Homo sapiens: one gene and its partner. The protein of the gene in region 1 purifies or fractionates together with the protein of each later gene. This does not show direct contact. Each region holds a gene or a part of one and is shown in the gene's direction. Other genes may lie near its edges.

Region 1 (3,850 bases):
AGAGTGGGGACTGCTCTCCAGGAGGGGCCACAGCCCTTGCCAAGGCTTGATCTGAGGGCCTTTCTAGCGCCTGCAGACCCCCCAAGCAAGCTCCTGTCCATGCCCGCTAATCCCAGAATTGATGGTTCGTGGAGTCTTCCCCTCCTGTGTCACTCCTTCCACAGCCCACCAAGTTCATGGTGGGGACCGAGCAGGGCATCGTCATCTCCTGCAACCGCAAGGCCAAGACGTCAGCTGAAAAGATTGTGTGCACCTTCCCGGGCCATCATGGCCCCATCTACGCCCTCCAGAGAAACCCCTTCTACCCGAAGAACTTCCTGACGGTTGGCGACTGGACAGCCCGCATTTGGTCTGAAGACAGCCGGGAATCGTCCATCATGTGGACCAAGTAAGAGGCGATGCTGGGGACAGGAGGGGATGCAGGAGACAGGAGGGGATGGAGGGAGCCCAGCTGGGCCCCGGAGAGTCCCGAGCCTCCATATGTAAAATGGAGAAAAACCTTTCCACAAACACCCGAGCTCGTGTTAGCAAGTGACTTGCTCCAGCCACTCCACAAAGTGATAAGCTTCAAACACTCAGTTACTAAAAATAATGGCCATGGCTTAATTTTATTTCCTTTTTTTTTTTTTTTTTTTTTTGAGACAGTCTCGCTTAGTTCCCCAGACTGAGTGCAGTGGCGTGATCTCGGCTCACTGCAGCCTCCACCTCCCAGGTTCAAGAGACTCTCCTGCCTCAGCCTCCTGAGTAGCTGGGACTACAAGCACCTGCCACCATGCCCAACTAATTTTTGTATTTTTAGTAGAGATGGGATTTTGCCACGTTGGCCAGGCTGGTCTTGAACTCCTGACCTCAGGTGATCTGCCCACCTCGGCCTCCCAAAGCGTTGGGATTACAGGTGTGAGCCACCGCGTCTGGCTGGCTTAATTTTCATAATCCTCAAACTATCCCCAGGAGGAGGCAGCATTGCTCTTCTCTTCATCTCATTTTTCATGTTAGGGAACTGGGCTACAGAAAGGCCAAGCCACTTGCTCCTGCTCTCCCAGCTAGTGAGGAGCCGAGATTGGGTGTGAACCAAGGAAGCTTGGCTGGGAAATGCGGGTGCCTTGGCACAATTCAGCAGTGAGGCATAGCCTGTCTTGCTCAGTGCCACTCCTCTGAGGAGAGCAACAGACAGGGAGCTTGAGACAGAGCTATGAGCACAATGGTTAGACCAGAGAAGCTTAGACTATCACATCCCCCTCCATTCTTCTTAGGGCCCATTTACCTTGTCTAAAAGTGCCCTTTCTCCTCCTCCCCTTCATCTCCTAAATTAGGTAATAAGCCCGAATTCTAACCACCCCCTTGAGTCATTCACCACCGAGCACTGCCATGTGTATTGTGCATTGCATGTATAAATAATTACTTTTTTCTCTTGCTAAAAAAAACATCCTGGGGTTCCTTTCCTGCCCACAGAACCACAGACTCCTGCAACGTCAAAGCCACCAGCAACCCTAATGAGCATCTTTGGTTCCAGTGCTTCCCAAATCTGGTTGCATCAGAATATCTTGGGAGGAGTTTTTGTTTGTTTGTTAAAATGCTTTTGAGATGGAGTCTTACTCTGTCACCCAGGCTGAAGTGCAATGGCGAGATCTCGGCTCACTGCAACCTCCACCTCCCGAGTTCATGCGATTCTCCTGCCTTATCCTCCTGAGTAGCTGGGATTACAGGCGCACGCCAGCACACCCAGCTAATTTTTGTATTTTTAGTATAGACAGAGTTTCCCCATGTTGGCCAGGCTGGTCTCAAACTCCTGACCTCAGGTGATTCGCCTGCCTCAGCCTCCCGAAGGGCTGGGATTACAGGCATGAGCCACCGTGCCTGGTGGAGGAGTGATTTTTTTAAAATCCAGATTCTCAGCCCCAACCCTGGGGGTACTAACATAGAATCTTGGGCTTAGCCCAGGAATGGGTTTGCTAAGGAGCAACCCCAGGCTTGTGACTCAGCCAGTCCTTGCTTTGGGAGCAGAAACCTGGTTCGATGTCCTCATTCTACAGGGGTGGGAACGCTGGCTGACAAGGGCAGTGCATTGTTCCAGGCCTCATAGCAAGTAGGGGGTTCCCAGTAGATGTGAAGCCCTTTACAGGCTTTAGGAGCCTTCCCAATGTCTTCAGGTCCTGCAGGCTGCCAGGGCTGTGTGAAAGGAGCAGGGTGTCGAGCACAGCACCCATAGGCCTTTCGCAGGGCTGGTTCCTAGAGGGACTTGGTGGACCTGTGTCGTAGAACCTGGGTCTCCCTTGTCCTCCTCCTGCATAAGGTTAAACAAATTTAGCAAATAAGAATATTTGACCCTGGGCCAGGTGCAGTGGGCTAATGCCTGTAATCCCAGCACTTTGGGAGGCTGAGGCGGGAGGATCACTTGAGGTCAGGAGTTCAAGACGAGCCTGGCCAATATGGTGAATCCCCATCTCTAATAAAAATACAAAAAATCAGCTGGGCTTGGTGGCTAACGCCTGTAATCCCAGCACTTTGGGAGGCCGAGGCGGGTGGATCACCTGAGATCAGGAGTTCAAGACCAGCCGAGATTGCGCCACTGCACTCCAGCCTGGGCGACAGAGTGAGACTCCGTCTCAAAAAAAAATAATATTTGGCACTTAGTTAAATCTGAATTTTAAAAAAAAAAACTATTTTTTTTTTAGTATAAGTATGTCCCATGCAATATTTGGTATATACTTATACTAAAAATTATTCATTGTCCAAAAATCTCCAGATGTTTCTTTTTTTGGGGGGATGAAGTCTCTTTGTTGCCCAGGCTGGAGTGCAGTGGCACGATCTTGGCTCACTACAACCTTCACCTCCTGGGTTCAAGCAATTCTTCTGCCTCAGCCTCCTGAGTAGCTGGGATTACAGGCGCCCACCAACACCCCTGGATAATTTTTTTATTTTTAGTAGAGGCAGGGTTCTGCCATGTTGGCCAGGCTGATCTCAAACTCCTGACCTCAGGTGATCCACCATTCTCGGCCTCCCAAAGTCCTGGGATGACAGGCATGAGCCACCGCGCCCGGCCCAGATCCTTTCTTTAGTCTTGATCATTTCTCCCACTGTGGTCTGGCTGTCAACACACTAGGTTTGCAAAGGTGACTGGGAAGTGTAGTCTGCCTTGCTCACCAGGGGCCCAGCTACAACTATATTGCAATGGAGGAAGGGAGAGGAGGTCTGGGTGAAAATCTGAAGGCTGCACTGTGTGTGTGTCCCTTTTAAAAAAATGTTCCGTCTTCACTGAAGAAACTCTTGAAAACCCAGATGAAACCAAGTAGGAAGTGACACTCTCCTTATCTCAGCGGTAGCAGCTTTTCTGGGCATGTCCTTCCTCTGACTCCCATCCGTGAGTCCCAGGGCTGGGACCAGGTCCAGCAACACGTGCCTGCTGCCTGGAGTTAGCAGCAGAGAAATGCCAGTGGCCAGCCCACGGGAAGGACTGTGCCCAGAGCCCTTTCTTTATTTTATTTGAGACAGGGTCTCACTACGTTGCCCAGGCTGGAGTACAGTGGCACAAACATGGCTCACTGCAGCCTCGACCTCCTGGGCTCAAGCGATCCTCCCATCTCAGCCTCCCGAGGAGCTGGGACCACAGGTGCTCACCACCACACCCGGCTAATTTTTTTATTTTTTGTAGAAACAGGGTCTTTCCATGTTGTCCAGGCTGGTCTCAAAATCCTGGCTTCAAGCGATCTTCCTGCCTTGGCCTCCCAAAGTGCTGGGATTACAGGCACATGACCAGCCCAGAGCCCTTTAAAGAACAGCCTGTCAGACACCTGAGGTCAAGAGTTTGAGAGCAGCCTGGCCAACATGGTGAAACCCCATCTCTAGCAAA
Region 2 (3,500 bases), on another chromosome or scaffold:
CAAAGTGCTGGGATAATAGGTGTAAGCCACCACGCCTGGCCTGAGAGGGACTATTTTAAAATAAGGGATGCTAATTTTATTTATTTATTTATTTATTTATTTATGTTTTTGAGACAGAGTCTTGCTCTGTCGCCCAGGCTGCAGTGCATTGGCGCAATCTCAGTTCACTGCAACCTCCACCTCCCAGGTTCAAGTGATTCTCCTGCCTCAGCTTCCCTAGTAGCTGGGATTACAGGCATGCGCCACCACGCCTGGCTGATTTTTGTGTTTTTAGTAGAGACAGGGTTTCACCATGTTGGCCAGACTGATCTCGAACTCCTGAGCTCAGGTGATCTGACAACCTCGGCCTTCCAAAGTACTGGGATTACAGGTGTGAGCCACTGCGCCCAGCCAAGGGATGCTAATTTATAGTGTTGGCCCACATACCTAAAAATAAAGTTCTTAATCAAAATTATTATTATTTATTTTTCGTAGAGATGGGGTCTCATGTTGCCCAGGCTTGCCTCAAACTCCTGGGCTCAAGCAATCTCCTGCCTCAGCCTCCCAAAGTGTTTTTCTTTTTGAGATGGAGTCTTGCTGTGTCACCCAGGCTAGAGTACAGTTGTGCAATCTCAGCTCACTGCAGCCTCTGATCCCGGGTTCAAGCGATTCTCCTGCCTCAGCCTCCTGAGTAGATGGGATTACAGATGCCCACCACCGCGCCCGGCTAATTTTTATATTTTTAATAGTGACGGGATTTCACCATATTGGCCAGGCTGGTCTTGAACTCCTGACCTCATGATCCACCTGCCTCAGCCTCCCAAAGTGCTGGGATTACAGGCTGTGAGCCACCGTGCCTGGCTAAGCCTAGCTAATTTTTCAAATTATATTTATTTATTTATTTATCTTTGAGACAGAGTCGCCCAGGCTGGAGTGCAGTGGCACAGTCTTGGCTCACTGCAGCCTCCACCCCTGGGGTTCAAGTGATTCTCCTGTCTCAGCCTTTCTGTTAGCTGGGATTACAGGTGCCCGCCACTGTGCCTGGCTAATTTTTAGTAGAGATGGGGTTTCACCATGTTGGCCAGGCTGGTCTCACCACGCCTGGCCTTATTTATTTATTTTTATTTTTAAATTTTATTTATTTATTTTTGTGTGACAGAGTCTCACTCTGTAGCCCAAGCTAAAGTGCAGTGGCATCATCTTGGCTCACTGCAACCTCTGCCTCCTGGGCTCGTGATTCTCATGCCTCAGCCTCCTGAGTAGCTGGGATTATAGGCGCATGCCACCAAGCCCAGCTAATTTTTGTATTTTTAGTAGAGGTGTGGTTTCACCATGTTGGCCAGGCTGGTGTCAAACTCTATCAACCTCAGGTCATCCACCCACCTCAGCCTCCCAAAGTGCTGGGATTACAGGCGTGAGCCATAGCGCCTGGCCCTATTGTACTGCATTTTAAGAATGGTGAGTTGAATAAAAATGTCCTTGAGAGTCACAGTCAACTAGTCCATCTTTAGATCCAGTTCTTTTGAGGATTCAGAACATAGCCAGTTATGGACTTTTAGGGAAAACCTGGAAGGATGAAAGAGGAGGGAGGAAAGATTTCATACTCTTTTTTATTTTTTATTTTTTGTAATAGAACATGAGCTTTACATATCAGAGAAAATTTTCTAGCTGATAATTTCAGTTGAATCATCTAGAGATAGTGGGTAGAATAAGTATCCATGAGTCTAAGTATCTTAGATGTAGATGGATTTAAGAATGTGAAAAAGAACACTTGACCAGCCCTAAAGAAATCTTCTGTTACAGTTCTAATAATTTCTTAATAGGGTATATCCTTTTCTAAGTTATCTTACTCAGGCTTTTGCTTTTTTTTTTTTCGAGACAGAGTTTCATACTGTCGCCCAGGCTGGAGTGCACTGGCGCGATCTTGGCTCACTGCAGCCTCTGCCTCCCGGGTTCCAGCAATTCTCCTGCCTCAGCCTCCCAAGTAGCTGGGGTTACAGGCACCCGCCACCATGCCCAGCTAATTTTTGTATTTTTAGTAGAGACGGGGTTTCACCATGTTGGTCAGGCTGGTCTCAAACTCCTGACTTCAGGTGATCCTCCCACCTCAGCCTCCCAAAGTGCTGGGATTACAGACGTGAGCCACCATGCCCAGCCACTCAGCCATCTTTTAAAATGCAATAATATGCTGCTTAATGATGGGGATATGGGCTGGGCGCGGTGGCTTACGCCTGTAATCCCAGCACTTTGGGAGGCCAAGGTGGGCAGATCACGAGGTCTGGAATTCGAGACCATCCTGACCAACATGGTGAAACCCTGTCTTTGCTAAAAATACAAAAAATGAGCTGGGCATGGTGGCGCGTGCCTGTAGTCCCAGCTACTCGGGAGGCTGAGTCAGGAGTATCACTTGAACCTGAGAGGTGGAGGTTGCAGTGAGCCCAGATCACACCACTGCACTCCAGCCTGGCAACAGAGCAAGATTCCGTCTCAAAAAAAAAAAAAAAAAAAAAGATGGGGATACGTTCTGAGACAAATGCGTTATTAGGCAGTCTCATTACTATGCAGACTTCATGGAGTGTACTTTACAAACCTGGGTGGTACGGCCTACTATACACTTAGGCTGTATGGTATAGCCTATTGCTTCTAGGCCACAAAGCTGTATAACATGTTACTGTACTGAATACAGTTATAATACAGTGGTAAGTATTTGTATAATAAGCATAGCTAAACATAGAAAAGGTACAGTAAAAATATGATATTATAATCTTATGGGACCACTGTCATATATGTGGTCCATTGTTGGCTGAAACATTAAATGGTACGTGACTGTATTTTTTGATTATTTTTCTTTCAATATACATGATTGACACTTTGGAATTGAAACAAAATATATTGAATTCAAACACTGGAGCACATACTAATGAATAACATGTACATTTTTTTTTTTTATTTTTATTTTTATTGATCATTCTTGGGTGTTTCTCGCAGAGGGGGATTTGGCAGGGTCATAGGACAATAGTGGAGGGAAGGTCAGCAGATAAACAAATGAACAAAGGTCTCTGGTTTTCCTGGGCAGAGGACCCTGCTGCCTTCCGCAGTGTTTGTGTCCCTGGGTACTTAAGATTAGGGAGTGGTGATGACTCTTAACGAGCATGCTGCCTTCAAGCATCTGTTTAACAAAGCACATCTTGCACCGCCCTTAATCCATTTAACCCTGAGTGGACACAGCACATGTTTCAGAGAGCACAGGGTTGGGGGTAAGGTCACAGATCAACAGGATCCCAAGGCAGAAGAATTTTTCTTAGTACAGAACAAAATGAAAAGTCTCCCATGTCTACTTCTCTCTACACAGACACGGCAACCATCCGATTTCTCAATCTTTTCCCCACCTTTCCCGCCTTTCTATTCCACAAAACCGCCATTGTCATCATGGCCCGTTCTCAATGAGCTGTTGGGTAGACCTCCCAGACAGGGTCGTGGCCGGGCAGAGGGGCTCCTCACTTCCCAGTAGGGGCAGCCGG

What was found. The genes of interacting proteins can lie anywhere in the genome.
Region 2: the proteins of DNAI2 (region 1) and CCT3 purify together in Homo sapiens (affinity purification with mass spectrometry; 2 studies listed by BioGRID and IntAct, with this or other methods). This does not show direct contact.

Annotation. Positions count from the first base shown.
Region 1 is NC_000017.11:74,305,055-74,308,904, forward strand, and holds part of DNAI2 (dynein axonemal intermediate chain 2), read left to right. Parts: intron 1-164; coding exon 165-388; intron 389-3,850. UniProt on the Homo sapiens protein: Part of the dynein complex of respiratory cilia.
Region 2 is NC_000001.11:156,328,293-156,331,792, reverse strand, and holds part of CCT3 (T-complex protein 1 subunit gamma), read left to right. Parts: intron 1-3,500. UniProt on the Homo sapiens protein: Component of the chaperonin-containing T-complex (TRiC), a molecular chaperone complex that assists the folding of actin, tubulin and other proteins upon ATP hydrolysis.